Linked DNA regions of Homo sapiens: all the other regions are linked to region 5. The links come from fine-mapping of genetic effects on gene expression. A gene starts in region 5. Each other region holds a variant in brackets. All regions are shown on one strand. Distances are from middle to middle.

Evidence for each region. PIP is the estimated chance that this variant, and not a neighbour inherited with it, causes the effect.
Region 1: its variant is the best candidate, but not a certain one, in a credible set for the expression of MICAL3 in left ventricle (GTEx, PIP 0.73).
Region 2: its variant is the best candidate, but not a certain one, in a credible set for the expression of MICAL3 in whole blood (TOPMed, PIP 0.59).
Region 3: its variant is the best candidate, but not a certain one, in a credible set for the expression of MICAL3 in spinal cord (GTEx, PIP 0.80).
Region 4: its variant is the best candidate, but not a certain one, in a credible set for the expression of MICAL3 in whole blood (INTERVAL, PIP 0.70).

What each region holds. Positions count from the first base shown.
Region 1 is chr22:17,875,588-17,880,587 of GRCh38, reverse strand. All of the region lies in intron 16 of MICAL3 (microtubule associated monooxygenase, calponin and LIM domain containing 3), which reads left to right. Among named protein-coding and RNA genes, the nearest start is that of LINC00528, 100 kb to the right of the region's middle. The variant G/A (reference allele first, on the strand shown) is at 2,726.
Region 2 is chr22:17,924,069-17,930,047 of GRCh38, reverse strand. All of the region lies in intron 1 of MICAL3 (microtubule associated monooxygenase, calponin and LIM domain containing 3), which reads left to right. Among named protein-coding and RNA genes, the nearest start is that of MIR648, 54 kb to the left of the region's middle. The variant G/A (reference allele first, on the strand shown) is at 3,031.
Region 3 is chr22:17,907,799-17,913,777 of GRCh38, reverse strand. The region is part of intron 1 of MICAL3 (microtubule associated monooxygenase, calponin and LIM domain containing 3); the gene reads left to right. Among named protein-coding and RNA genes, the nearest start is that of MIR648, 70 kb to the left of the region's middle. RefSeq lists enhancers at 2,435-2,704, 2,715-2,764 and a silencer at 2,961-3,255. The variant T/C (reference allele first, on the strand shown) is at 2,611.
Region 4 is chr22:18,001,179-18,006,725 of GRCh38, reverse strand. All of the region lies in intron 1 of MICAL3 (microtubule associated monooxygenase, calponin and LIM domain containing 3), which reads left to right. Among named protein-coding and RNA genes, the nearest start is that of MICAL3, 21 kb to the left of the region's middle. RefSeq lists an enhancer at 4,539-5,235 and a silencer at 5,171-5,547. The variant A/G (reference allele first, on the strand shown) is at 3,075.
Region 5 is chr22:18,021,278-18,027,256 of GRCh38, reverse strand. It overlaps MICAL3 (microtubule associated monooxygenase, calponin and LIM domain containing 3), which reads left to right and starts at 2,696. Exons shown (of 32, transcript NM_015241.3): 1 at 2,696-2,976. RefSeq lists a silencer at 2,559-2,968.

The sequences.
Region 1 (5,000 bases), 150 kb after region 5:
GGTATGTTTCTATAAAATGTGAGTTTCAAGAGCAGGATCTATGGAAAGACATTTTCCCACCTAGGGTGGCCTGTTTAAAGTGTGACCGTATTAACGTGACTGATTTTAAAGGCCCCACCTGTGTCCATGGTTCTCAGAACTGAGCCGTTGCAGGTTGAGCAGCTGCTGGGTGCCTTCATCTACACAAGAGCTAGCCGTCCTCAGCGTCCGCTGTCGCCTGGAAAGCACGCTCAGTTCTTCTCAAGCTGTGTCTCCGTCAGTTCTCACAGTAACCCTGTGAGGCAGGTGCTGTTACTGGCTCCGTTTTACCAGGGAGGAGACTGAAGTATAGAGTGGAGAGGCCATGTCACGTGTCTGAGCCGCATAGTAAGCAATGCAGCCAGACTCGAATCTGGCTTGTGGGACCGGGGCTACGCTCTGGCCTCCCTCTGCCCACAGAGACATTATGCTCACGGGTGCTAGATAGGAGCAGCCACGTCAGAGGCCTTGGGGCTGTTTTTCCACCCGCACGTGGCTGTAAGGTGAACCCTTAGCCAGCCAGAGAGTAATGCGAGGAGCCTTCCCTGGTCCTGTGATTGCCGCTTCTGGCTCCTCGGATGAGCAAGGCCATGTCCCTACCTGCAGGTCTTTACCCTTTCACATATACCTTCCCGTCCATTCGCCAAAAACACATTCACTTCTCCCTTTAGTAAATTATGCTTTGGCCCGATGCTCCTATTCAGGAACCACTTCCCACTCTGGAGTTTCCTCTGGACTGCTGTCTTAGTCATTTATTCTAGCCAATTCCCACCTCCCCACCTTTGCTTTCTAAAATGTCTTGTTGTGGAATGTGTCACCCTTTTAACCTGCCTCTCCTTCTAAACCTTCCATTTGATGCCTCTGATCTTATGCCACTGTGTGAAAGAAATATGCTTGTTCCACCTTTGTACTAACCATAGTTCTTCATTGATCCGTGTAGCTGGCCTCGTCGGAGGCCAGTGGGGGGTGGAATGGCTGTGCAGAAAGTCGGCCTTGTGTCATGGGATTTGATACAGATGGGATTATGGTTACCTGGGGATGGGGTTAGTAGGGGAAGGCGATATGTGTTGAACTCTGCATTTCTGCCCCTGAATTTCCCACTGTCGTTTAGTAGGTCCAAATAGAGCGATATGCATGGAGCTTAAGTTTCTACTTTGTTGCCAACAGACATACAGGGATCTTGATGCTGACAACCGTGGCAAGCAGAGCCCCCACCATGAGAGGGTAAAAGAGCATGAACCCGTGGCATGGGATGCTGAGAGCCAAGCACACGGGGCACGCTGTGGTGGTGGGGCAGCGGGAAGGGATATGGGGGACGGCCCCCTCCCCTTGCTTTTTGCACGCTCTTGTCACCCAGCCAAGAGCCAGAATTCTTTTTGCTAGCAGTGTTGACCAATGCAAATAGCATTCACTGTAAAGCAGTCACCCATCTGGCATTCAGATGGGATGCTGATCCTAAATGTGCGTATTGTAAAGGGCCTTAATGACTTCCCATTTCTGCCCACTGTTCCCCTTCCAAGACCATACTATTTCTACCCCCAAACTATGTGCCAGTGGTAGAGTAGTAGCATTGGACTGTCAGATACAACTTCTTAGGGAGAGGGTCTAAATCAGTATTCAAGTGGCATTCAGCAGTCACGGATCTTGAAGTGGAAATCCTAAGAGAGCCAAAGCTCTTACCAGCGTGAGGATTTTTCCAGTGGGATGAGAATGAGGGGGAGAAAGGTAGGTGATGGCAAAATGGGGCTGTACCCGTGGAAAGCTTTAGTCTTTTCTGAAACACTGAGGGGAGAAATTACTGATTGCAGCTGGCCATCGTACAATGTGAGGGATAGCCGAGATGCCCAGTTAAAGAAGCCGGCTTACTTTATGAAACTTTTGTTCTTGTTATTCCTACCCTTAAAGATCTCCAAGTGGGTACAGCTCTGCAGCTAGCGGGAAGAATCATCTCTAGTTGTTAATCTCACAAAAGCCATTTTGGTTTCTAACTCCCTTCTGCCTTTGCTCTCTGAGAAATGCAGTTATGGCCAAGCAGTAAATTAGGTTACCCCTCGGACCCGATAGGAGCTAATCATAGTGCCATCTTCCTGCGCCCTCTCACCAGGCTAGCAGCGGGCAATGTGTGTGCTGCCTGAACCTGGTGCTGGGTCGGAGAGTGGAGACTGGGCTGGAGGTGGGGGTCTTTCCCACCCCCTTTCCATGGCCTCGCCCCACGGTGCTCACCCTTTCTGGGGCTGCTCTCCCACGGCGCTGTGTGCCCAGCCTCTTTCTCTCTTCTTCCCAGGCTGTGTCCCCTCAAAAAGGAAAGCAGCCCTTTTCACTGAGCAGGGCAGTGCCCTCCATTTTGCAGATTGTGTATTTAATGAGATGCTGATAATGTTTAATGAAACAGCGCCTAAAAGAAGAAGGGAGGGGAAGGCCGGGTGCGGTGGCTCAGGCCTGTAATCCCAGCACTTTGGGAGGCCGAGGCAGGCAGATCACGAGGTCAGGAGATCGAGACCATCCTGGCTAACACAGTGAAAACCTGTCTCTACTGAAAATACAAAAAAATTAGCCAGGCATGGTGGCGGGTGCCTGTAGTCTCCGCCACTGGGGAGGCTGAGGCAGGAGAATGGCATCAACCCAGGAGGCAGAGCTTGCAGTGAGCCAAGATCGCGCCACTGCACTCCAGCCTGGGCGACAGAGCCAGGGCGACAGAATCAGACTC[G/A]GTCTCAAAAAAAAGAAGAAGGGAGGGGAGCATGTTGAATAGGAGAGATTGGCAGTGAGAAACAATTTGAAGTTTAGGGCTGTGGTGCAGAGAGGGGATGAGTTAGGGTTTTTGAGCTCAGGAGGCAATAAGGCTTGCAGAGATGTTTCTCTCTTTTTCCCTCTGAACTGGTTTCTGCACTCCTCAGTGCAGGGCTCCAGGCTGGATACTTTTGAGGACACTACTTAAGTTCTTTTCTTGGACTCTGCTGCCATCCTCCATAACCTCCCTAACCTCCATAACTTCCCTAACCTCCCTAACCTCCATAACCTCCCTCACCTCCATAACCTCCCTCACCTCCCTAACCTCCCTAACCTCCATAACCTCCCTAACCTCCATAACCTCCCTAACCTCCATAATCTCCCTAACCTCCATAACCTCCCTCACCTCCATAATCTCCCTAACCTCCATAACTTCCCTAACCTCCCTAACCTCCATAACCTCCCTCACCTCCCTAACCTCCATAACCTCCCTAACCTCCCTAACCTCCATAACCTCCCTAACCTCCCTAACCTCCATAACCTCCCTAACCTCCATAACCTCCCTAACCTCCATAACTTCCCTAACCTCCCTAACCTCCCTAACCTCCATAACCTCCCTAACCTCCATAACCTCCATAACCTCCCTAACCTCCATAACTTCCCTAACCTCCCTAACCTCCATAACCTCCCTAACCTCCATAACCTCCCTAACCTCCATAACCTCCCTAACCTCCATAACCTCCCTAACCTCCATAACCTCCATAACTTCCCTAACCTCCATAACCTCCCTAACCTCCATAACCTCCCTAACCTCCATAACCTCCATAACCTCCATAACCTCCCTCACCTCCCTAACCTCCCTAACCTCCATAACCTCCCTAACCTCCATAACCTCCATAACCTCCCTAACCTCCCTAACCTCCATAACCTCCCTAACCTCCCTAACCTCCATAACCTCCCTAACCTCCCTAACCTCCCTAACCTCCATAACCTCCCTAACCTCCCTAACCTCCATAACCTCCCTAACCTCCCTAACCTCCATAACTTCCCTAACCTCCCTAACCTCCATAACTTCCCTAACCTCCTTAACCTCCCTAACCTCCATAAGCTCCCTAACCTCCATAACCTCCCTAACCTCCATAACCCTGCATGTGTACTTGCCCTCTCTGCCCCACCTCTACCCAGTCCTACCCAGTCCCCCACTCCTCCCCTTGGCTCTGACTGCTCTGCCCCCCAGGGGGCTACTGAGTCTCCCTCTTGCTTCCTTCTGAGGGGCGGTGCTTACAGCCATCCTCTCCAGCTCCCTCTGGGGCCTGTGTTGCTGAGCCCAGGGCCAAGGAGCTGGCTGAGTGTCTCAAGCAGAGGGTGTTGAAGTACCAGGTAACTGCCAGTCTATGTCGCCACCCCACGGAGCTATGAAGTGCACGTGGCTGAGGTAGGGAGTGTGACCAATCTGGCTTGGAGCTGGAGGAGCAGAGGGCTTTCTAGCATCATGACTTAATGCTGTCCTTCCCACCTGTAAATAGTTCATTCTGAACCTGGTGGGAAATGAAGCAGTTATTGGTTGCCAAAGCTTTCGGTCACTGCCTCAATCTCTGGGGACTGGGTTCCTAGCTGCATGGGCCCACGGCTAAGGGAGACCCTTGCCCAGTTTTGTTACGTGTGCTATGTGCAGTCTGCAGAGGATTTGGGCTCAAGTCTTTTCTCCTCATCTTTGCTTGGGATTCAGCTGGCTCTTTGGCAAGCAGAGCCTCTCTGAGCACTAAGTGGAAGGAAGAGATGCTGCATTCCTGGCCCTTCTGTAGAAGGAGCGAGCTTCACTCTAGATTTGCTGTCTCCGCTGCCTGCTACTTCTAAGGCCAATGGAGTGATAGGGTGGCGGGAGAATCTTTTTGCCCTGGAGAAATCCCAGCTCAGGCCGGGGGTTGCTTGGCAGAGCACAGAGCATGTGAGTCGACAAGCCATCCCCCTGCCCTTCCTGCAGGCTGCCTTACCCATTCAGAGGGAGGCCGAGGCTGTGCCGGGCGGCCCACAGCTGCGGGACCGCGTTCCAGGGTGTGCTCTGCTGCAAGCATGAGGGAAGGACAGTTAAAAGCAAAACGGAAGCCTTGCATGGGCCGCTTATGCTTCTGGAGCTACTTTTTTTTTTTTTTTTTTTTTACTATACATGGTATTTAGATAAAGGTCTAGAGTAAAAGGCTCTACAACCATCTTATGTTCAGAGGTCAGTGTGTGACTTAATTTAACATTTCCTT
Region 2 (5,979 bases), 97 kb after region 5:
TTGAGTGTCCTCTTTTGTGATATGCCTGATCAAATCTTCTGCCCGTTTTTCCTTTGGTGTCTGTTTTTTTCCGTATTGGTTTATACAGAATTTTTCTACATTCCAGATATGAGAGTTTTCTTGGTTACACATAGCCCTTTTGCTTTAAAGAGGTTTATTCCTTCTGAAATGGAGCATAGAGGCCGGGCGCAGTGGCTCACGCCTGTAATCCCAGCACTTTGGGAGGCCAAGGCGGGTGGATCACCTGAGGTCAGGAGTTCGAGACCAGCCTGGGCATCAGGTGAAACCCTGTCTCTACTAAAAATACAAAAAATTAGCCAGGCGTGGTGGCGGGCATCTGTAGTCCCAGCTACTCAAGAGGCTGAGGCAGGAGAATGGCATGAACCCGGGAGGCGGAGGTAGCAGTGAGCCGAGATAGCGCCACTGCACTCCAACCTGGGCAACAGAGCAAGACCCTGTCAAAAAAAAAAAAAAAAAAAGAAAAGAAAAGGAAAGAAAGAAAAATGAAATAGAGCACAGATGGGTTTCAGGCCTGTTTACAGAGGGGAGCCTTTGGAAAAAATGTTGTTACTTATCGGTCTTTTTTCAGGAATTGGAAGTTAAATAACCCAACTTACACATGGTTTTAAAAACAAAATATTGGAGGCTGGGCATGGTGGCTCATGCCTCTTAATCCTAGCACTTGGAGAGACCAGGACAGGAGGATTGCTTGAAGCCAGGAGTTTGAGATTAGCCTGTGCAACAGAACTAGACTTTGCCTCTAAAAAAAAAAAAAAAAAAAATTAGCCAGGCGTGGTGGTGCACATCTGTAGTTCCATCTACTTGGGAGGCTGAGGTAGGGGGAATTGTTTGACCCAGGAGTTTGAGGTTACGGTGAGCTATGATGGCATCACTACACTCCAGCCTGGCAGACAGAGGGAGACTCTTTCTTTAAAAAAGGAAAAAAAAAAAAAAGGGCCGGGCACCGTGGCTCATGCTTGTAATCCCAGCACTTTGGGAGGCCGAGGCGGGCAGATCACAAGGTCAGGAGTTCGAGACCATCCTGGCTAACACAGTGAAACCCCATCTCTACTAAAAATACAAAAATTAGCCAGGCGTGGTGGCGGGCGCCTGTAGTCCCAGCTACTTGGGAGGCTGAGGCAGGAGAAAGGCGTGAACCCGGGAGGTGGAGCTTGCAGTGAGCGGAGATCACGACACTGCACTCCAGCCTGGGTGACAGAGTGAGACTCCGTCTTAAGAAAAAAAAGTTCTAAGGGTGCCAGTCATTTGTCACATCAGGGTTGTGTCATTACAGTGATTATGGTCACCCCCCTATGGGGCATGTAACACAATATATAAAGCCACGGTATGAAACATCTAAGTGTTCTGGTTGTTCATCGTATCAGGGCAGTGTTATTTCAAGGAGTGAATGTGTCCACCAAAGCGTGGTGCATGTACTGCATTACGTAAAGTTGGCTTTATGTTTCTTAAGTGCTCCTTGCACATGTGAATCACAGTAGTCTTATCTCAGTGAGTGAATGTGTTCACCACACTAGATATATCTCATACACTACATGAAGACGCATGCAGACAGGTGTTTCTTTCTTTCTTTCTTTCTTTCTTTTTTTTTGAGACGGAGTCTTGCTGTTTCGCCCAGGCTGGTGTGCAGTGGTGCAATCTTGGCTCACTGCAAGCTCCGCCTCCCGGGTTCACGCCATTCTCCTGCCTCAGCCTCCTGAGTAGCTGGGACTACAGATGCCCGCCACCACGCCCCGCTAATTTTTTGTATTTTTAGTAGAGGCGGGGTTTCACCGTGTTAGCCAGGATGGTCTCGATCTCCTGACCTCGTGATGCGCCCGCCTCGGCCTCCCAAAGTGCTGGGATTACAGGCATGAGCCACCGCGCCCGGCCCACGGACAGGTGTTTCTAACAGTACTATTCCTCGCATCAGGTAGCGTTCCTGCAGTGGGTGAATGTGTCCACCACGCTATGCTGCATATAGTAAAGTATGGCAAGACACATGTAAATAAAACCCAATTTATCTCGAGTGCTCAGAGTATACAGTCAGAAGCCAAACCTTTAATTCACTCCCCAAAGATCTGAGTGTGTGTTGTGGTTCTGGCGCTGCTAAATGCTGGGAATAGAAACCAGACGCAGAGCCACTTGCTGTCTTGTAGGAGCCCAGCACCTGGTGGGAGGTGCTTGGAGAACAGAGGTAAGATCTGGGTGTAGGAAGAAGGGAAGGGCAAAGTTGTTCTGAGAAGGGCTTGGAGATGTGGCCCTAAAGCCCCGATGGATGAGGAGGTTCATATTTGTCATCTGCCTTAGTTCAGAGAAGACTGAAGCAGCTCAGAGGACAAGCAGAGGTTCAGAGAAGTGTGTGCACGGGTGGGGAAAGTGTGTTCTAGGCTGTGAAAAGAAACTGTGCTGGAAAGAACATGGGTGTTCCTGGAGCAGCAGGCAGATGTCGGGGGCTGAGTACAGGGGTGTTGGGAGGTTAAGGTGATGAGGGTGGAGGTGAAGCAGGACCTGCAGCCCCAAGGTTAGCCTGGTAGAGAAATGGTGTCTTTCAAAGTGTAAGCAAGGGGGTGGCTTAAGTAGATTTGTTTAGAAAGATCACTTTGGAAGAAACATAGTATGGGAATTGCACACTTGAGCAGGGTGTATTTGTGTCCCCATGTTTATGGCAGCATTGTGCACAGTAGTCAGAAGGTAGAAACAGCCCAGTTGTCCATTGATGGGTGAATGGAGAAACTAAATGCAATGTGGACTACAATGGAATTATTATTCAGCCATAAAAATGAATGAGGTCATGGTATATGTTACAATGTGGATGAACCTTGAAGCCCTTATACTAAGTGAAATAAGCCAGACACAGAGAGACAAATACATGATTCTACTTATATGAGGTACCTGGAATAGACAGATTCATAGAGCCAGAGTAGAATGGTGACAACCATGGGCTGAGGAAGGGGAAATGGGGAGCCAGTGTTTAATGGGTACAGAGTTTCTGTTGCGGATGACAAAAAAGTTCTGGAGATAGACAGTGGC[G/A]ATGGTTGTGCAACATTGTGAATGGATTTAATACCACTGAATTGTACAATTAAAAATGGTTAAAAACAACTTTTATGTTATATATATCTTAACACAATAAGAAAATAAACCAAAATTACCTTGAAGAAGGGTCTACATTTAAGAGACTATTGCAAGGGTCCAGGTAGAGATAATGAAGTCCAATGCAGTGACGTTAGAAAGGAAGGAATAAATGGGCGAGGAATTTAGGAAGAGCAAATGCGAATATACCCTGCACTGTGCTGCCTCCCCACCATGCTTAGCATGGTACAGTTGCCTGCACGCCCACGCCTCCGGCCTTTTGCAGTGGGAAGTAGGAGCGGTGTGGAGGCCAACACCTGGAGTTCTGACTTAGGTAGATGGCAGTTTTACTAGAATTGAGATTCAGGGAGAGACATAAGTTTGGGAAGGAAGATGGGGTTCTATTTTGAGTAACCTGAGTTGGAGCAGAATATGTATGCCCTGGCATATTCTGATGGAGATGTCCAGGGGACAGTTACAAAGATGGTGCTAGAACAAAATAGAAAGAGGGCCAAGGACAGAGCCCTGAGCATCCTCTTTACTTAGAAAGTGGCATAAAAAGCCGGAGGAGCATGCACAGAGAAACCAGGGCAGGAGAGTTCAGCTATATAATCCTTTGTTCTCCACCAGGTTTGCTTTTCGGTTACTCTACAGATTCACGCTTCTCCCCTGGGATATTCCTTTTCCAAGCCAGGCTGTTGTTGGGAGGGCACAGACGTCCTGGAATGCCAAGGTTGAGGATGGTGAAATGGACTCAGGGAAGTTGGATTGTATATCGGGAAGTTGTAGACCTTTAGTCTTCTAACCAGTTCTGCTTTGTTGATTCCACTGTCCTTTCATTGCATCTTTGCTCATGTTCTACTGATGAAGAAAAATTGAGAGCTTTGACCAGCATCAAGGTCAAGATGAAAGACATCAGTAAGACCTTACAGTCCCATGGATACCATCACTTAAAATGCCTGTGCGTTTATGTTTTCCAAGTCAAAACATTTTTTTTCATAAATTTTATTTTATTTCTTTGATCAGTGATTTAGAAAATGTTTGGGTTTGGGACTCACAGCCTGTCATTTTGTACAGTATTTTTGAAAGCACCCAGCTGTCAGGAGGAAGGGACAATGCCTGTTTGAGGATTTAACTGAAACGTGTTTGATGCCTTGGCTGTGGTGCTAAGATCTGTCATGGTGAAGAGAGATTTGTGCAGTAGTACCCTTCCGACACTGTGGAAGGAGGGGTGCCGGGAAAACATGGACAGATGAACGGGTTCTTCATTTTAGTTTGAGAAGCACTATTCTCAACAAGAGTTACTTAAAAAAAAATTGTTTAAGTTTCCAGGTCCTCCAGCCAAGCCCAGATGAATGCTTTTCAGGCAGAGGCAAGATAGCTGTGACCTCCTCAGCTTTCTGCCTGCTCTGAGCTCCCTTCGTGTTGCTGAATTGGCAGCAACAAGTAGATATCAACTTCTTTTTTCACATTCCTCGTAAAACTGACTGAACCATAATCGTCTTCAGGTTTGGGAGATATTAAATATCCCCTCCAGGGTGATGGTTGCACAAGTTGGCAGATTTACTAAAAATCACTGATTGTACACTGAAAACGGGTGACTCTTATTGTCTGTAAGTTATACTGCAATCAAGTGGTATAGAAAAACATGCCCTCCAGTCCTGAGAACAGTATGTTTTTCTGGCCTGGTGGTGGTTTTTGGGGAGCCAGAAGCCCTGCTCTGAGTCCTTTGGTTTCCTGGCCGAGCCCTTCAGAGGTCCTGATGTCAGGAACTTGGTACAGCTTGTGGCTCTCACCTGGCTCCCTTCCCCTTGCTCTCTCAGGTGCTCGGCACCTAGTGTGGTTGGAATATTTACCAGGAATGAGCCAAGCCCATTTTGGTTTCTGGCCAGAGGGTAGCTCTCCAGGATCCAGAGCCCAATATCCAGTTTGTGGCTTATTCGGATCCCAGGACTCTTTCCCCCCGTTGCTATTTGGTCAATTTCATTGTTCTGTTGGCACCCAGTTTGCAGGGTGTGTTAGGCCATTGTTGTGTTGTTATAAAGAAATACCTGTTGCCAGCAGGGATGGAAGCTTACTGTGAACAGTGGGTTGAGTTGCCCTGAGGAAGGAAGGTCAGAGCACTGGAGCTATTGTGGGCATGTTACTATGTCATCCTGCAGCAATGTTTATGAAATACCTGCTGTTCTCACACTGTGGCTTGAGATGCTCTGGGGCTTCTGGTTGCAGGTCTTCTGAAATACAGGGTTGCTTAATTAAGGTCCTTTAACAAAGTACGTCCATGGTGTTTAGCACAGGTTGAATATCTCTTCTGAAATGCTTGGGATCAGATGTGTTTTGGATTTCATATTTTTTTCAGGTTTTAGAATATTTGCACTATACCTACCAGTTGAGCATCCCTAATTGGAAAATCTGCCATCAGAAATGCTCCATTGAGTGTTTCCTTTGAGTGTCCTGTTGATGCTCAAAAACATTGAGATTTTGGAATATTTCCAGTTTTGGATTTACAGATTTGAGATGCCCAACCTGTATCTATATCAAATATTTATTTAAGTTGAACAGAGTACATTGGCTTTTCCTTGCCCCAGTGAGTGGTATTTCTCAAGGCGGTATATTTAATCTGTACCTGAACTGGTCCGAGGGGTGAGATGTGCCTGATCCGCTGGCTGTGCCCTGGTGAGTTGGAGTCTGTGGAGCTTGACTGCAGACACAGAGCTCTCCAGGATTTGTGAGAGGACTGACGGTGTCCTTTGGTGGCCTTCCCATAAGGATGGTGATATGGTTTGGCTGTGTACCCACCCAAATCTCATACTGAATTGTAGCTCCCATATTCCCCACGTGTCGTGGGAGGGACCTGGTGGGAGGTAATTGAATCATGGAGGCGGTTACCTCCATGCTTTTCTTGTGATA
Region 3 (5,979 bases), 110 kb after region 5:
AGCTGCGTGGATGTTCTTAACTTGGTTTTCATGAAGAAATAGGTTGTTAGCAAAGAATAGAAATGAAAATTAGAAAAGATACAACATAAGTGTTAGGACTGTACTACAGTCCTGCAGGATTAGGGACTTGGAAGAGAACCCAGAGGCTATCTGGGTCTGGCTCTTCTCAGATGCCTCTAGAGAGGGGTCATCCACACCCAGCCAAGCAGAGTGCTGGTCATGAGAAAAATGCCACACTCTTGCAGTGTTCCTGTTAGACTGTCACTGCCCGCCCAGGCTGACTGTTGCATTCCTGGATACCACGTTTTGGTAGCACATTGGAAGTCTTTCTCTAACATGTGTCCAGGTCTCCTTCACCTTCCGCAGCCACGCAGGCCAGGCTAGTGCTTTCCCCAGGACCGGTCCTTCAAGTACAGAGCTGCTGGGCTCCATCCTACCCTCGTCACCTCCACAGAAACACGACTTATTTCTACTCCAGGTCGGGTTATAGCGCAGAGACCCAGTCCCTGCCCTAAGGAAGTTCACAATGGAGGAGAGAGACATTTAAATAATGTCCTTGCAGAGTGGCAGGAGCAGATGAGGAGTGCAGCCGGGTGACAGGCAGGAGAGGGGAAGGGCACAGTGGTGGGGGGAGGAGCTGGCTTCATGTTTCCTCTCCATCCTGCTGAGTGTCAGCTTGATGATAAATAGGATGGAGAGTCAGGATAGATCCCAGGATGCAATACATGTGGATTCAATACCTTCTCATGATAGAAATACTCACCAGACTAGGAATAGAAGAAAATTACCTTCACCTAGTAAAAGCCATATGCGAAAAACCATGGTACGTGTTATGTTCAACAGTGAGAGACAGAAAGCTTTTCCTCGTATGATCAGGAACAAGACAAAGATGCCCACTTTTGCCTCTTCTATCCAACATAATCCTGAAGTTCTATCCAGAGCAGTTAGGCCAGAAAAAGAAATTAAAAGGCATCCAAATTGGAAAGGAAGACAGTTATCTCCATTTGTAGATGATATGATCTTATGTGTAGAAAATCCTACAGATTCCACCAGAAAAACCTGTTCAAGGCTAGTACATAAATCCAACAAAGTAGCAGGATACAAAGTTAATACACAAAAATCAGTTACATTTTTATATACTAATAGTGAACAGTCTGAAAAGGAAATGATGAAAATAATTGTCTACAGTAGCATCAAAAATAATAAAACACTTAGGAATTAGCCAAGGAGGTGAAAGCCTTGTACAGTGAAAACTAAAAAACATCACTGGAATAAATTAAAAGATAAATGAGAACAAATTCACGCTTATGGGTTGGAAGACTTACTATTGTTAAGATGTCACAATTACCCAAACAATACACATTCAGTGTAATCCCTATCAAAATCCCAATGATTTTTTTTTTTTTTTTACAGAAATAGAAAAACCCATCCTAAAATTTACATGGAATCTCAAGGGACCCTGAATAGCCAAAACAGCCCTTCTAAAGGAGACCAAAGCTGGAGGACTCATGCCTCCTGATTTCAAAACTTACTATAAAGCTATACTAATCAAAACAGTGTGGTACTGACATAAAGGCAGACATATAAACCAATGGAATACAATAGAGGGCCCAGAAACATACCCTAACATATATGGTCAAACTATGTTTTGTTAAGAGATGGGGTCTTGCTATGTTGCCCAGGCTGGAGTCTAGCTCCTGGGAGGATCAAATAATCCTCCTGCTTCAGCCTCATGCACCTCACTTACGGTCAAATTATTTTTGACAAGGATACCAGGACTACTCAGTACGGAAAGGACAGGCTTTTCAAATAATGATGCTAAGTTGCCTATGTTGAAGGAAGACAGATCAGGAGCCCGAGGCATGTTGGCGATTTGGGTCCTGGTTTCTGAGGGAAAATATGATCAAGTGTTCCTCTCCACCTACTTTTTTCTTTTTTTGGTTTTTGAGACAGGATCTTGCTCTGTTTCCCAGGCTGGAGTGCAGTGGCATGATCATGGCTCACTGCAGCTTCGACCTCCTGGGCTCAAGCAATCCTCCCACCTCAGCCTCGCATGTAGATGGGACCACAGGCGAATGCCACCACACCCAGCTAATTTTTTTGTTTTTGAAGAGACAGGATCTCACCGTCTTGCCCAGGCTGGTCTTGAACTCCTGGGCTCAAGTGATCTTCCTACCTTGGCCTCCTAAAGTGCTGGGATTACAGGCATGAGCCACCTCACCTGGCCTTCCACCCGCTTTCAAGATCTGTTTAGATGAGACATACCTCTGACTGAATGGGCTAGGGGAAGGCGCAGTTCACAGATTGCTGTGTAAGATTCAGAAATTTGCACGTTCGCTGGTGTGTTCATGGTGCATTGGCTAGGGAGAAAACTAAGCTTCACTCTGATGCCATACTCTTGAAGTGTCATTCTTTTTTGTTGTTTTGTTTCTTTTTTTTTTTCTATTTTTAAACATGATTCTCCTTTCTACTCCCCCACAAACATCCAGCTACCTCTTCTAAGAGCTAGAGATTGAGTGTTCTCATAGCCAGCCAGAAGTCAGTGACAACCTTCAACTATTGTTATAAATAGAAACATAACCATGTCCTGCGTGTGCTTCAGAGGCCGTC[T/C]CTGCAGTGCCATCCTCCACAGCCAAGGCCCATGCGGGGCTTCTGAGTCAGCAGTCAGCTGCTGCGGACAAAACATGCAGGCTGGAGTCAGCTGGCAGAGACTCACAGATGCCTGGAAACCTGGCATCACCTCCTCTTCCTCCCCCAGCCCCCAACCCGGCTCCTCACTTCCTCTACCCCTTCCTTGCACACCTTGGCTTTTCAGTTTCTGGGATTTCTGGCACCTTCCTGCCAGGTTTCCTGGTCTCCAGGTTCCTGTGATTATGAACTGTACACAGGGTGGTGCAGGACAGGCCAGGAGGAGCATGATCTGGCTTTGACCTTAAGGAATGAGGGAAATGGGGGCGGTAACAGAAATAGCCCTGCTCTGCTGTGCTTCCCGGCTGTTGTCAGAGCCAAGGAGAATGCCGGGTAAGCCCCTTGCAGAGTGAGACAGGCCCAGCCCAGCAGAGCCACAGAGCAATGCTGTCACACTCTGGAGGAGTCTTTGCGCTGCAGTCATCATTCAGCTGCAAAGCAGGAAAAGTGAGGCAGCCCAAGGGAATTCATCTTGTGTCGTCTTACCTTGGGTGCCGGTCGCATTGTTCCAGGAGCCATCCTGCCTCTGTTCATCCATTGTCACCAGTGCCCTGCAGGTCGAAATCTCTTCGGCCGGGGAATTAAAACTTGCCTGCTGGTTGGCTCTGCAGCTCTCTGGGAGCTGTGGCTGACATCTGTTAATTTAAAAGTGTTTTCACTAGCAGAAGGATTGGGGACAGTTATTAGTGAAGCCGTTCCTCTGTAGTGGGGTTTGATTTGGAAATTCTTTGTGGCGGTTAGCAGCTCTTTGGAAGTGAATTATTTCAAACCGAGTGGGTGACAACCAGCCATGGGGTTGTTAGCTCACACGTAAGAACTCTTCTTGGGAAATAAGTGCCCAAGACCCTCTTTCAGGGTAGGTGTAAGCCAAGGCAGGCGCTATGACGGGAAGGATTTTGGAGTTATGGGTTGCAGGACCTTTAATGTATTGGCTTCAGCAAGAATGTCATGGTTCTGAGTGCTCTGAATCCTGGCAAGGAGTTGAAAGTGGCTACTGTTTAGAAACAAAGAAAAGTCATTTTCTTCTTTGACATGAGGTAGCGGTGGATCAGACCCAGTGTATGCAAAGCTTACCAAACACTGTGACTCTGGTGGAGTTCAGGTTGACTGTGAATGCAGGCAGGGCACACAGGGTCAGGATTGTGCCATGCTGTGTGCTTGTCAAAGAGCAAGTGAAGCCTCAGAAGTCCCACAAAGAGGTCAGGAGGCAAAGAGGGTCCCTGATGTAGAAAATGGTGTGGGACCTTTGTTTCTAGTCATGGGTTGTCAGCTGTCACCATTTCTCCTGCCTTCACATAAGCACATCTGCTCTTTCCTGCCCTACAAGCCATCTTTTGACTTTCTAACATTTCTAAGATAAGCCTTGGCTTGTAAGATAAATAATGGGCCCTTTTTAGGAACTGTAAAGTATTTCTCTTGCTGCTACCTAGAATAAAACCTTTCTTTTTTGGGGAAACTGAATGTTAATTCCAGTTAACTCCATTTCTTGCTGGCCTCTTGGCCATGTGGCTATTGAGAGAAGCTATGTGTGTTAACAGTGTATTGTTTTTGTTTTGTTTTGTTTTGAGACAGGGTCTCACTCTGTCGCTGAGGCTGGAGTGCAGTGGCACAATCTCAGTTCACTGCAAGCTCCGCCTCCCGAATTCAAGCAATTGTCATGCCTCAGCCTCCTGAATAGCTGGGATTACAGGCGTGTGCCACCACACCTGGCTAATTTTTGTATTTTTTGGTAGAGATAGGGTTTCATCATGTTGGCCAGGCTGGTCTTGAACTCCTGACCTCAAGTGATTCACCCACCTCGGCCTCCCAAAGTGCTGGGATTACAGGCATGAGCCACCACACTGGGCCAGCAGTATAGTTTTTAATATCTAGAGCCAGGAGGGTTTGTTGAGTACGTGATATATTTGAGGCGAAAAGCCCAGCCAGTGTGTTCCATCTGCAATGTATCCTCCACATTATGTGACGAGTGTTGTGTCTGTTGACATAGAAAATATAAGGTGGAGAGGGCAGTTCCTTGTATTTAGTTACAACTTTCTCTCATGAAACTTAAGATGCATCTCATTTGGTTTGGTTTAATCCTGTGATACCATGGTGAGGTGCGGAGAGAAGTGGCATGTCATTTCTACTTCACACTGCTGCTCAGTGTGCTTACCCAAAGTAAGAGCTTCAGGGCCTCTTCTGTATCATTCTGGAACATGGTGCCTGTCTTCCAAGAGTTGGTTTCAGCAGCACCTGCAGCTGAATAGTGGGCAGTCTCTTGCTTCTACATGCCTGCTGAACGTAGTGCATCAACCACTCCCTTCCTCTGTCTGCACCCAACCCCAAGGGTACATCTTTAAAGCAAAGTCCAGTCCAGTTGTGTTGGTCACTCTCGTGGTGAATTGGTGATGTGCCTGTGCTGGGCCATTGTGATGAGAGCACCAGGAGCAAGTGCTGTGGGCATGTGGATTTCTCAGCAGTAGCCTTGGAGAACTTCAGAAGTGAAAGTCTTGGCCAGGCTCACACCTGTAATCCCAGCACTTTGGGAGGCCGAGGCGGGCAGATCACGAGGTCAGGAGATTGAGACCATCCTGGCTAACACGATGAAACCCCGTCTCTACTAAAAATACAAAAAATTAGCCGGGCGTGGTGGCGGGTGCCTGTAGTCCCAGCTACTTGGGAGGCTGAGGCAGGAGAACGGAGTGAACCCAGGAGGTGGAGCTTGCAGTGAGCAGAGATCGCACCACTGTATTCCAGCCTGGGCAACAAAGCGAGACTCCATCTCAAAAAAAAGAAAAAAAGAAAGTCTTAGGGGCGCTGTCTAACCTCCTTGTCTTACACACAAGGAAACTGAGGGTTCGTGCAACAGTGCTTACCCAGAGTTGTGCAGCGGGGTCGTGCAGCTGGGGTCTGGCTGTGTGGGCTCAGCCCTGTGGTCACACTCGTCTTGTCACCCTGACCCACTCTCTACTCACTAGTTTTGTCCTTTGTCCTTTTGCCTCCCACCTTCCAATACAGTTCCAGTGGTGAGGTTTCATCAGATGTGACGCAAAAACGATTCTGCAGACTCACAGGAGCCGGTGGGTGCAGGAGTACACGCGGTGCCATCTCCCACCTCCCAGCCTCTGTCCAGCAGACTCACTGGACGTAGGTGTGCGGACATTTCCATAGGTGGAAGGCATAGATATCGTCATTTACTGCTGTTCAATTCGATTCAGGGTGAAAATGGAATGACTGTGAAGTCTCCCAACCCTGTACCTTACGCAATAGCAGGACTTCTTCAGTTCTTTTAATCCCTGCCAACTTTGACAC
Region 4 (5,547 bases), 20 kb after region 5:
CAGTAGCTGGGATTATAGGCATACACCACCACGCCTGGCTAATTTTGTATTTTTAGTAGAGACGGGGTTTCTCCATGTTGGTCAGGCTGGTCTCAAACTCCTGACCTCAGGTGATCTGCCCTTCTCGACCTCCCAAACTGCTGAGATTAGAGGCATGAGCCACCGTCACCAGCCCAGAAAATATTTTTTAAATTGAAAATAAGATAGCATATTCCACAAATCTTCTACCGGCTCCATTGCGGATTGAATTAGATGATTCTCCCTATTGTTTACTAAGTGTCCAGTTATTTCTGGGCACTCTCCACCTCCGCAGGACACTGCCCATCTCCCCAACCCAGGGCCATTTCTCAACCTAGTGCTCCTTCTCCTACTAGGGGGGCAGACTTCCCAACGTGAGCACCTACATTTCGCCGTAGATGGGATCCACTTGCACTCTCTGAGGTTCTCAGGCAGATTCCTTCCTTACGGAAGGGGGTCTGATATTTAATCACCCCATGCACTAAGTACACACTTCATGTGCGGATCCATCAGGATAACCCCACACAAGCTGCCAGTTCTTTGCTTGTAGTGGGTGCCCAATAAATGTTTGAATGCATAAAGAAAGCACTCAGATAAGCAGAGACATTTTAGAGCTCTCTGGGGATGAGAAAAGAGAGAGCTATGGGAGTGAGAATTAACTTGATTGACTATGGCTGGACCTGGCAAAGAACAACTCAGAAGTATTGGCCTCACAATCACCTTGTTCAGGCTGCTTAATCAATATTAAAAGTTTGCTGCTCCCACACAATTTTGCTAGGCTCTCCAACCCTGTGAGGATGTCAACAGTTGAAAAAGAAGAAATAATGAGCCCAGCCTGTATTTGCAGGGGAGTGTTAAAACTGCCGGTGGAGCAGGATAGTTTGCTAAACAGCCAGTTGAGAACTTTCCCAAACTGGTCGGCAGCAGCATTGCACACAGAAGTCCCTTCTTCATTGACATGGGGCTAATTCTAGCCACCAGCACTCCAGCGGTACGGGGCAGTTTTGTGGCCTTTTGCTATTGAATCTGCCAGATGTGTCCAAGACACACTCTCATGGGCAGAATATAAACAACAAACCAGTATAAAGAAGTCCACAGTGATCTCACCCTTCATAGAAGTCTTCTTTGACTTGTTTTCTGGCCCCCTGTAAGCACTCCTTGTACCACACTCCCTAAACCCTGTGGCTTAGGTTTTGCTATTTTGTATTTGTTTCCTCCTTCTCTGGTTGTTACATGTAAAAAGGTTGTGTTCACGCAGGGGGCAGGAATTGCAATGGAAAGAATGCAGTGTGGAAAGCCAGGCTCAGTTACTTACCAGCCTTGCTACCTTAGCCAAACGGTCATGCTCTCTGAGCTGTAGTTTCCTTCCTCATCTGTGAATAGACTTCTACCAACTCTCCTCACATGACTGTTTTGAGACTGAAATGATATTATAGGTATAGAAATAAATGTAAACATAATATAAATGTATGAGGCCTGGCGTAGTGGCTCACGCCTGTAACCCCAGCACTTTAGGAAGTCGAGGCAGGTGGATCACCTGAGGTCAGGAGTTCGAGACCAGCCTGGCCAAGATAGCGAAACCCCCATCTCTACTAAAAATATAAAAATTAGCCAAGCGTGGTGGCACGAGCCTGTAATCTCAGCTACTTGGGAGGCTGAGGCATGAGAATCGCTTGAAATCAGGAGGCAGAGGTTGCAGTGAGCCGAGATTGCGCCACTGTACTCCAGCCTGGGTGACAGAGTGTGACTCTGCCTCAAAAAAAATAAAAAAAAACAAAATAAAAATAAAAATAAATAAGTAAATATATGAGATTATCTTTCATCTGGCATGCAGTAGATTCTTAAGAAACTCAAGACAGTATTGCGTTGTGGAGTTATGGTGGGGGCACTAGATGTCAGACCTCTGTGTGCACTCGGGCAGATCAGTTTCACTAAGCTCTTGTGTTTTCCTCAGGAAGGCAAAACGGTACTAAGGCGAATAATAAGGAACATCACAGAATTGATATGAGGGTGAAGTTAAATAATGCGGGCAAAGCACTTCCCAACAGTACCTAGCACATAGTGAGCACTTAATAAATGTAAGCTGTGGCTGCTGCTGCTGTGGCCATCAGGGAGATAGGGAAATATGTCAATAAGAAATGTATATTGGCCGGGCACGGCGGCTCATGCCTATAATCCCAGCACTTTGGGAGGCCGAGGCGGGTGGATCACCTGAGGTTGGGATTTCAAGACCAGCCTGACCAACATGGAGAAACCCCGTCCCTACTAAAAATACAAAATTAGCTGGGCGTGTTGGCGCATGCCTGTAATCCCAGCTACTCGGGAGGCTGAGGCAGGAGAATCGCTTGAACCCAGGAGGCGGAGTTTGTGGTGAGCCGAGATCATGCACTCCAGCCTGGGCAACAAGAACGAAACTCAGTCTCAAAAGAAAAAGAAAAAAAAAAAAAAGAAATGTATATTGGGGCAGAGAGCATGGACAGTTGGGTTATGGCAAGGCACAGAGTAGAAATGGAAGCTCTGTAAGCTAGCAGCTTCTGGCAATCAATCTGGAAGGCTTCATGGAGGGATGCACTTTCCAGAGCTCTTTGGATTATAGTTGGAAGATGAGTTATCTGGAGGTATTAGAAAGGCTATCCCAGGGGCCAGGCGCAGTGGCTCATGCCTGTAATCCCAGCACTCTGGGAGGCCGAGGCAGGCACATCACAGGGTCAGGAGATCGAGACCATCCTGGCCAACATGGCGAAACCCTGTCTCTACTAAAAATACAAAAATTAGCCAGGTGTGGTGGCAGGTATCTGTGGTCCCAGCTACTTGGGAGGCTGAGGCAGGAGAATCAGTTGAACCCGGGAGGCGGAGGTTGCAGTGAGCTGAGATGGCACCACCGCACTCCAGACTTGCAACACAGCGAGACTCCATCTTAAAAAAAAAAAAATAAAGAAAGGGTATCCCAGACTCCCTGCGTGATTGGAAGCTGGTTGAGTGGCAGTGGGGTGACCAGCTGTTGGGAGGTTGAAAAGTTCTGAACTAAAGAAGATGGAGCTGAAGCTTGGTAGCCA[A/G]ATTGTAAGCCTAGCAGGCTGGTGTAAAGCTCTAAAACAGAGCAGACCCCAAGGAGTGGTTAGAAAGTCTGAAATTTGGCTTGTAGTGTGGATGAAAGCACAATTGGCCATGTGTGGTTGAATGGTTGTCACAGATTGAGTTAGGGACGAGCACTTTCGCAGCTCTAGGGAGGGGTGAGCAGTGGGGTTTGTTGCTGAAGGCAGGAATTGTGGACAGCTCATTGGGTGAATGAATTATTAATCGAAGTTTTGTCTGATTATGAGAAGGAAGGGAGAAGGAAGAGAAAGGGGTGCTTCCTGGAGAAGTAGAAATTATGAACTACTTGGAGGTGGAGGGCCCCACACATAAGAAGAATATTCTTCTCTAAGAGATGAGGGACCCAGAAAGAAGACAGGATTCATCTTTACCAAAGGTGGGGTTGATACTGTCGCTGAAAGTAGGTGTCAGAAAGTCTATCGACTTTCAACTAAAGTTCTTTTTTTTTTTTTTTTGAGATGGAGTCTTGCTCTGTTGCCCAGGCTGGAGTGCAGTGGTGCAATCTTGGCTCACTGAAAGCTCCGCCTCCCGAGTTCACACCATTATCCTGCCTCAGCCTCCTGAGTAGCTGGGACTACAGGCGCCCACCACCACGCCCAGCTAATTTTGTTTTTGTATCTTTAGTAGAGATGGGGTTTCACCGTGTTATCCAGGATGGTCTGGATCTCCTGACCTCGTGATCTGCCTGCCTTGGCCTCCCAAAGTGCTGGGATTATAGGCGTGAGCCACCGCGCCCAGCCTAAAGTTCTTTAAGATAGTGGATAATGCTCAAAGTTGAAGAATATTTGCAGGTATTGCTATTCCTGTGCAAAGGATGATAGGATCACACATGAAGTGTGTGAAGGCCATCAGACACCAAGTGCATTCCAGTATCCTCATTGGACCAGATGATGAAACTGAGGCCGAGGGTTGTACTTACCTGCTCAAGGTCATACAAGATATATTTGGTTCAATTCGCTCTATATTTTCGTTTTCTTTTTTTTAGACAGAGGCTCACTCTGTTGTCCAGGCTGGAGTGCAATGGCACGATCTGGGCTCAGTTCAACCTCCGCCTCCTGGGTTCAAGCGATTCTCCTGCCTCAGCCTCCTAAGTAGCTGAGATTACAGACGCGCGCCACCATGCCTGGCTATTTTTTGTATTTTTAGTAGAGACGGGGTTTCACCATGTTGGTAAGGCCGGCCTCGAGCTCCTGACCTTGTGATCTGCTCGCCTCGGCCTCCCTCCCAAAGTGCTGGGATTACAGGCGTGTGCCACCGCGCCCGCCCTCTGCTCTATATTTTCTCTTAGCGCCCTCCTCCAAAAATTTGAAATTCCCCCTAACCTCTTTGCTTCCCAACTAGAATGAAAATCCTAGTTTCATTTTGCGGCAACTAAGAGCAACAAACAAGTCTCCTTTATTATTATTTTTTCTTTCTTTAGATGGAGTCTCGCTCTGTTGCCCAGGCTGTAGTGCAGTGGCACCATCTCGGCTCACTGCAACTTCCGCCTCCCGGGTTCAAGTGATTCTCCTGCCTCAGCCTCCAGAGTAGCTGGGACTACAGGCCCGTGCAACCACGCCCGGCTAATTTTTGTATTTTCAGTAGAGTCAGGGTTTCATCATGTTGGCCCGGCTGGTCTTGAACTCTTGACCTCAAGTGATCCGCATGCCTCGGCTCCCCAAAGTGTTGGGATTACAGGCGTTAGCCACCGCGCCCGGCCAACAAGTCCCCTTTAAATACATCCTCTCTTCTCTCCGGGGGCAGGCTTTGATATGCCCACCGGGTTTCTCCATTGGCCACTTCATGTGGCTTCTCGCCCCTTCCAAGATTCCCAACCAATCAGTTCTTTCCCGTCTCCCGTTGGGCTTTGAGGAATGTACCATATGGATCCTGCAGGGGGACGGAGAGGACGAAGGGCGTGGCGACAGCTTATTTCTTTGCCTTTTGCACATATCCCGTGAGATTCTGGCAAGACTGAGCGTGCAAGTAGCAATGGAGTCCCTGAGGACGGGGGCCGCTTGCCAGTTTTCGAGGTGTACTGAGATATCTCGCCCCCGAGGCTGGGGTCCCGTGGTCCGGCCCGAGGGCCACAACCCCCGCCCTTCCATGTGCCCGCCCATCCCCCGGCTGCGCCGCTTCTCCGGCTGCTACCTACCGCGCCGGACGCTCGGGCTGCGGAACAGGGCGGCACTGGCCCGCCACAGCGACGCCGGCGCCGAGGGACACCGCAGTATGAGGCAGAGGTAAGAACGGGGCTTCGGGACTCCGACCCGCGCCAACCGTCCCCGGGGAGCCGCATCCTGCTCGCGCCCGAGCTCGGGGTCTCGGGCACCGGGCTGGTTCCGGCGGGCGGTTCTGGAGCGGGTGGCCCCGCGAGCGGACGCGCGCCGAGCCTCCCGCCCGGGCAGTGCCGAAGCCGGGAGCCGCCGCGGCGCGGGCGCCTCCTTCCGGCTGCGC
Region 5 (5,979 bases):
AAAGCCTAACCCTCTCTGACAAGTTTTTCAATTTACCCAATCATCCCATCAGCAGTAAATGCTGAGATTAAAACGTGAGGATCAGAGGGACAGGGCAGCTTTTCTATAGCAGGACTGAGGCTGAGGCCATCAGCAGGGTCAGTATCAAGTGAGCTCCAAGCTCCGGCATCCCTGGCTTAACCCAGGGCCTTGGAAAGCTCACCCCTTTCTCTTATTTTCTCTCCCTATTCTTACTTATTGAGGATTTTAAAATAGTAAAGGAGATACTGCGTTTTTCTGAGTAAATCAAAATAATCAACCAAAAAGCTACAAAGAACTAACCCTAGTTTCCCAAAGAGTTTGTGAGCTAAATAATTTAAATGCTATATACCAGGTGAGGGCACAACAGATGTGTGGAGGGCAGTGGAGTGGGACCGTGCAGGTCCTGTGGGGAACGGGGCTGGGTGAGTTGGATATCCCCATTGGAGAGGATTGGAAAGTCTTTAAAATGTTAATACCCTTGGACTCAATATTCCACTTCTGGGACTCACCTGGAAGGAAATTATTCACACATAGGAGCAAGATTTATGAAGAAAAAATTTTATTGCCATTATTTACAATCAATAAAAGTTGGAAATATTCAATAAAAGGGAAATTATGAGATATTCATATGATAAAAATATTGTATGACATTTAAATTAATGTTTTTTAAAAATCCTCAAAGGAGGAAGAATTTCCCACAAAGTTATTTTTAACAAAAAGCAGGATGCACTTGTGTGTCTGTGTGTGTGTGTGTGTGGTTTTATCTCAACTTAGTTTAAAGCTAGAAAGCTAGAAAAAAGACTGGAAAGAAATATGAATATTACTAATGGCTTTCTCTAGGTGATGAGATTATGAATGCTTTTCTTCCTTTATGTTTCTATATTTTTCAGTTTTTCTAAAATAAACGTTTTCGCCTAGTGCAGTGGCTCATGCCTGTTATCCCAGCACTTTGGGAGGCTGATGAGGGCAGATCGCTTGAGCTCAGGAGTTTGAGACCAGCCTGGGCCATGTGGCAAAACCCCATCTCCACAAAAATTAGCTGGGTATGGTGGTGCATGCCTGTAGTCCCAGCTATGCAGGAGGCTGAGGCAGGAGAATCGCTTGAACTTGGGAGGCAGAGGTTGCAGTGAGCTGAAATTGCACCACTGCCCTCCAGCCTGGGCAATAGAGCAAGATCCTGACTCAAAAAAAAAAAAAAAACTCCAGCGTCAAAAATAAAATAAAATGAGAAGTAGGAGAAATTATTAGAGATTCTGGACCTTTTAGGGCATTTTTCCCTAATATCCACTCAGGCCGTGCCCAGATGGCCTTGCACCTTCAGCTGTGGCATCAAACAAAACTGGGAATTGCAGCTTTACCACTTATCTCGCTGCATAAGCTTCCACAAGCAAGTTACTTACTGTTTGTGCTTTTAGGTTCTTAATATGTAAAACAATGTTTTACATTAAAAATTAAATGAAATAGCTCCTGAAAAGCCCAGTCACATTGTCAGAGCTCAGTAAAAATGTGTTCCCTTATTCTAGTACTGGGGCAGAACACCTGCAGGTTTGTAGGTGGGGAGACAGTGGACAGAGTGGCTGGGTGATGAAGTGGGGCTCTAGAGGATGAGCAGAGATTGCCTCTGAGCCGACACCCTGGCCCTGTCAGTTCCCGTCCTCACATGATGGACATGAAGGGAACACGAATGAAGCAGATGATGATACGGTTAAGTAAATACCACCTGGGACCAGAGAGAGCCCTTCTCAAGGAGTCGCCAGCCCAGAGTCGGCCCTCTTCTGAGCTGGCCGGCTGGAGTCAATCTGCTTTGGACAACACAGCTTCAGATGGAGATAATACTGAGGCCAATGATCCTTGAAGACAAAATAATCTCTGGGCTTCTTTCTGCTCTGATTATAATGTTGCAATTATACTGAGCAGATGCTGATAGGAATTTGGTCAAATCCATCCCGTCTTCCATCTAACTTATTTTAGTGCCTGGTGGATTTCTGTCCAGCTCCACGGGCTGTGGCAATGCCGGGGCTGGCTGGAAGTGTGGAAGGGGCTGGCTGGAAGTGTGGAAGAGGCTGCCCGGGCTCCGGCATCAAGAGGTTTTCTCCGGTGGGGAGGAGTGCGCGATCTGATCCTTGGAGCGCTTGCAACTGTAGCCCTCCCCCAGGGCTCTGCGCTGATCTCCAGGGTCATCATCATAGTAACAGTAAGAACTTCATTTTATAGCATTTTTCAATCTGTAAGACAACGTCGTGTCCTTTATACCGTTGAAATTTCAATTTCACGACTACTCAGATGTTACGCGACTTGCTCAGTATCCAACACTTGGTTCCTTCACTGGCTCCCGGAGACCTGGGTGCTGAAGCCACTGCAAGGAGGTGTGTGCTCGAACACACAGCGAACACCGACTGCGTGGTTAGCAGGATTCGCTGGGGAAGAGGCCTCAGGAGAGTGCTGGAATTTCCAACCTTCGAGGTGCTAGTAACGTGTGTCGAGGAAGGGGTTGGAGAAGGGGAGAAAATGAAAAGAAGGGGAGAAAATGAAAAGATGGGGAGGAGGAGAAATGGTTTGGGTTTGGTTTTGGCTTGAGCCTCACCCAAGCGTCCCACGCCGCAGCTCCGCGGCCTCCTGGGGGCGCCCGCTCGCGTTGCCACGGCGCTCGCGCGGAGCCGCAGCCCGCCCAGCCAGCAGCGCGCGCTCCTGCAGCCCCGGCGGAGTCCCGGCGGGGAGCGCCCGCGTAGGCAGGCACCCGGGGCAGCCCTCCGTCCTCGCCGCGCGGCCTGAGAACCCCTGGGCCCTGGGCGAGGGGGCTGGGCTGTGCAGCCCCCGAGGCTAACTGGGCGGGATCGCAGCTGCAGGGGTTGTGCGAGCAGCCACGGCGGCACCTGTGCCCTGCGGGCACCCACCCTGCCCCTGCCGAGGCAGGCGCCCACCGCCGGCGGTGATGCGGCTGTGAAGCCCTAGTCGGTGAGTACCCTCCAGTCCCCCTGTGGGCGAGCGAATCTAAATGACAAGGTTATGTGTTTTGCTGGATGTCTTCTAAGAATCATTTATTTAGATTGCTTATGGTGGGGAAGCGTTTCCTTTGTGACATCTTTGTGTTTCTCGGATCTATTTCGTTTCCCTCTAAACGCAGCCCTCTCTCCCCTAGTGGGAAAGACACCCAGTATCCGTGTCTCGATCATCGCACGACACCCACCAGTGCGGATGCCACGTACCACACACTCCCCAGAGCCTGCCAGAGAGCAGGGCTGTCTCCCAGCCACGTCCACCCCATTTTCATTGTGCTTCTATCCCGCAGGCAAAGGAAGAGCGTACCCAGGCACCCCCGAGGTAGGCCAGGTGTCAGGACAGCCAGCAGGCCCTTGGCGAAGCCGGGTCCGCTCTGGCTAGCTCAGCGCGGTGAACCCATGAGCTCATTAGGAGCAGCGGCTGCTTTGCGCGGGGAACGCCGGTTTCCCTGCGGCAGAGGGGCCCTGCACCCGCCCGCGGCGCGCGGTGGTGGCCCAGGACCAGTGGCGCACACGCTTGCGCTCCCAGGCTGCAGGGCGCGCTGCGCCGGCGCAGCTCCCGGGCGTGTGCAACAAAAGGACGGCCAAGTTCATTCCCTCCTGGAAGCAGAGGGCGGGGCCGCATGACTTCTGGAGGCTGCATGTGTCTTAGAATCAAATGGTTATGACTCCATAGCAAAATGCTTTCTGTGTGTCAAGTCCTCTCCGTGCCTGCCAACCCCTTCCCTCCTCTCTCCTCCCTAAAATGCTTTCTTATTGGTCTGGCACTGTGATCAACTATTTAGAATTTTCATTGTAAAGAAATGAAAAAAGGGTGAAACCGAGACAAGCTGTAGGCTGAAAGGCTGGGCCCTGTGGTGCTATTCATTAGCTCTCAGGCCTGGCTGCTGGGGAGATTTTTAGAAATCCTGCTACCTGGGTCCAATCCCTGGAGATTCTGACTTAATTGGTCTGGGATATGGCCCAAACACTGGGATTTTTTAAATTTTCTTTTTGTGGGGAGGAGTGGTGGTGGGAAAATTTGGAGTGCATACTGGATTTTTTTTTTTTAACTTCCCAGGTGATTCTAATGAGCTAAGATGGCCACCCACCATTCTAATCAATCAGGGTGACATTTTTCCAGGTGAACTTGGTAATAGTTCAGTCTCTCAGGCTGCCGTTGGAGGGCAGGGTATGCAACTGTCATAAATGCCTACAAGCTACAGGCAAAGAGAGCTGGCAGGGCCTTGGGCTGCTCCAAGAAGCTCAGGATGAAGGCAGTGTCTCAAACGAGGGAGGGATCATCACTCTCGGAACAGGTCCCTTCACTAAATGAAGTGTTCTGATCTATATTCCAGGGCAAGGGGAAAGCAGATGCATACCTTTGCAAGTCTGTAGCATGAAAGCTGTGGCTCCCTGTACATTTGTGGACTTCATGGCTGCCTATGTACTAACCAGAGTCACATGTGTATATCCCCCCACCACCCACTCACTACAAGGAGAATGGACACTTAGAAAGCAGAAGAGGGGGCTGGGCGCAGAGGCTCAGGCCTGTAATCCCAGCACTTTGGGAGCCCGAGGTAGGCAGATCACTTGGGGCCAGGAGTTGGAGACCAGCCTGGCCAACATAGTGAAACTCAGTCTCTACTAAAAATACAAAAATTAACCAGGTGTGGTGGTGCATGCCTGTAGTCCCAGCTACTCGGGAGGCTGAGGCATGAGAATAGCTTGAGCCAGGGAGGTGGAGGTTGCAGTGAGCCAAGATCACACCACTGCACTCCAGCCTGGGTGACAGAGTAAGACTCTGTCTCAAAAGAAAAAAAAAAGGGTGGGGGTGCAGGTCGGAATGCAGTAGTCACTCTGGAGAAGGAAGAGGCAACAAATAAGATCACCTAGAAATTATAAAGTGTTATTATCCTTCTCAGGCCTAAAATCCTTCCACATGGCGAGTCCCTCGTAAGCCTATGGGAAATCCTAGAAACTTCCTCTCCCTGAAAATTGGAGTCCCAGGGTAAAATCTTCCCCACAGGTACTGTTGCAGACTGGGGGTGGGCGGCAAAAAGTTTCCTCTAACCCTTGCCTTCTAAAGTTACCATGAATGTTCATAAACACCAAGGCAGGTGGAGGCAGACACTCCACAGCGAGTTCACAATGACTAAGGGGCTCAAGGAAATTAGATAAGGTCTTAAAACTGGGGGTCTGAAATGTTAAAATTTTACATAAACTAGAAAATGTGATCTACCCACCTGGTGCCAGAACTTCACCAGGCACAGCTTCCTAATGACCTCGCTTTCATTTGGGTTAAGTAGAGAAGGGGTTAAGATCTCCTGCGAGATAGGTATAAATGATGGTACCATATCTTCTGAAACTCTTGGGCACGGCTCAGTCATACACCTCATAAATAGGCAAGGGGATTAAGATGTTGTTTAAAGCATACACAACCCACCCAATGTGGACAACAAAGCTTAATGTGCCAGGGCCACTGAGGGAGTGGCCAGGAAGGGTCTCCCTACCATAGAATGGCCACAGTCTCCCACATGGCCTACCAGATTGCTTGTCTCTGCATGCTCCTTTCTGCATTCCCACGCACTGACTACACACTCCCTCCCTCTCCCATGCCCCACTCCCTCCAAGCAACCCAAAACAGTTAGAACAACTTCCATCCTTCCCTTTAGTCTTTGCTTTTCTAGTCTGTGCATAGCCATGCATGCATCATTTTGTTCCTTCCTGGAGTCAGCCTGACCTCTTGAGACAATGCCTTCATTTCACCTGGGCCTCCCACAGGTTTCCCTAGTACTTACCTGGCTGAGCTGGGCGATGGGCATGCTTCACTCTCTTGGCTGAGCGGGAGCTGCTCCTGACTAGTTCTGCATGAAGGATGGCTCACAGAGGCTTCTGCTACTTCCAGCCCAAATGTCCTTTCCTGACAGGTCACCTCAAGGCTGATCCATCTCACGAGACAGGGCAGGCCAGCCATGTG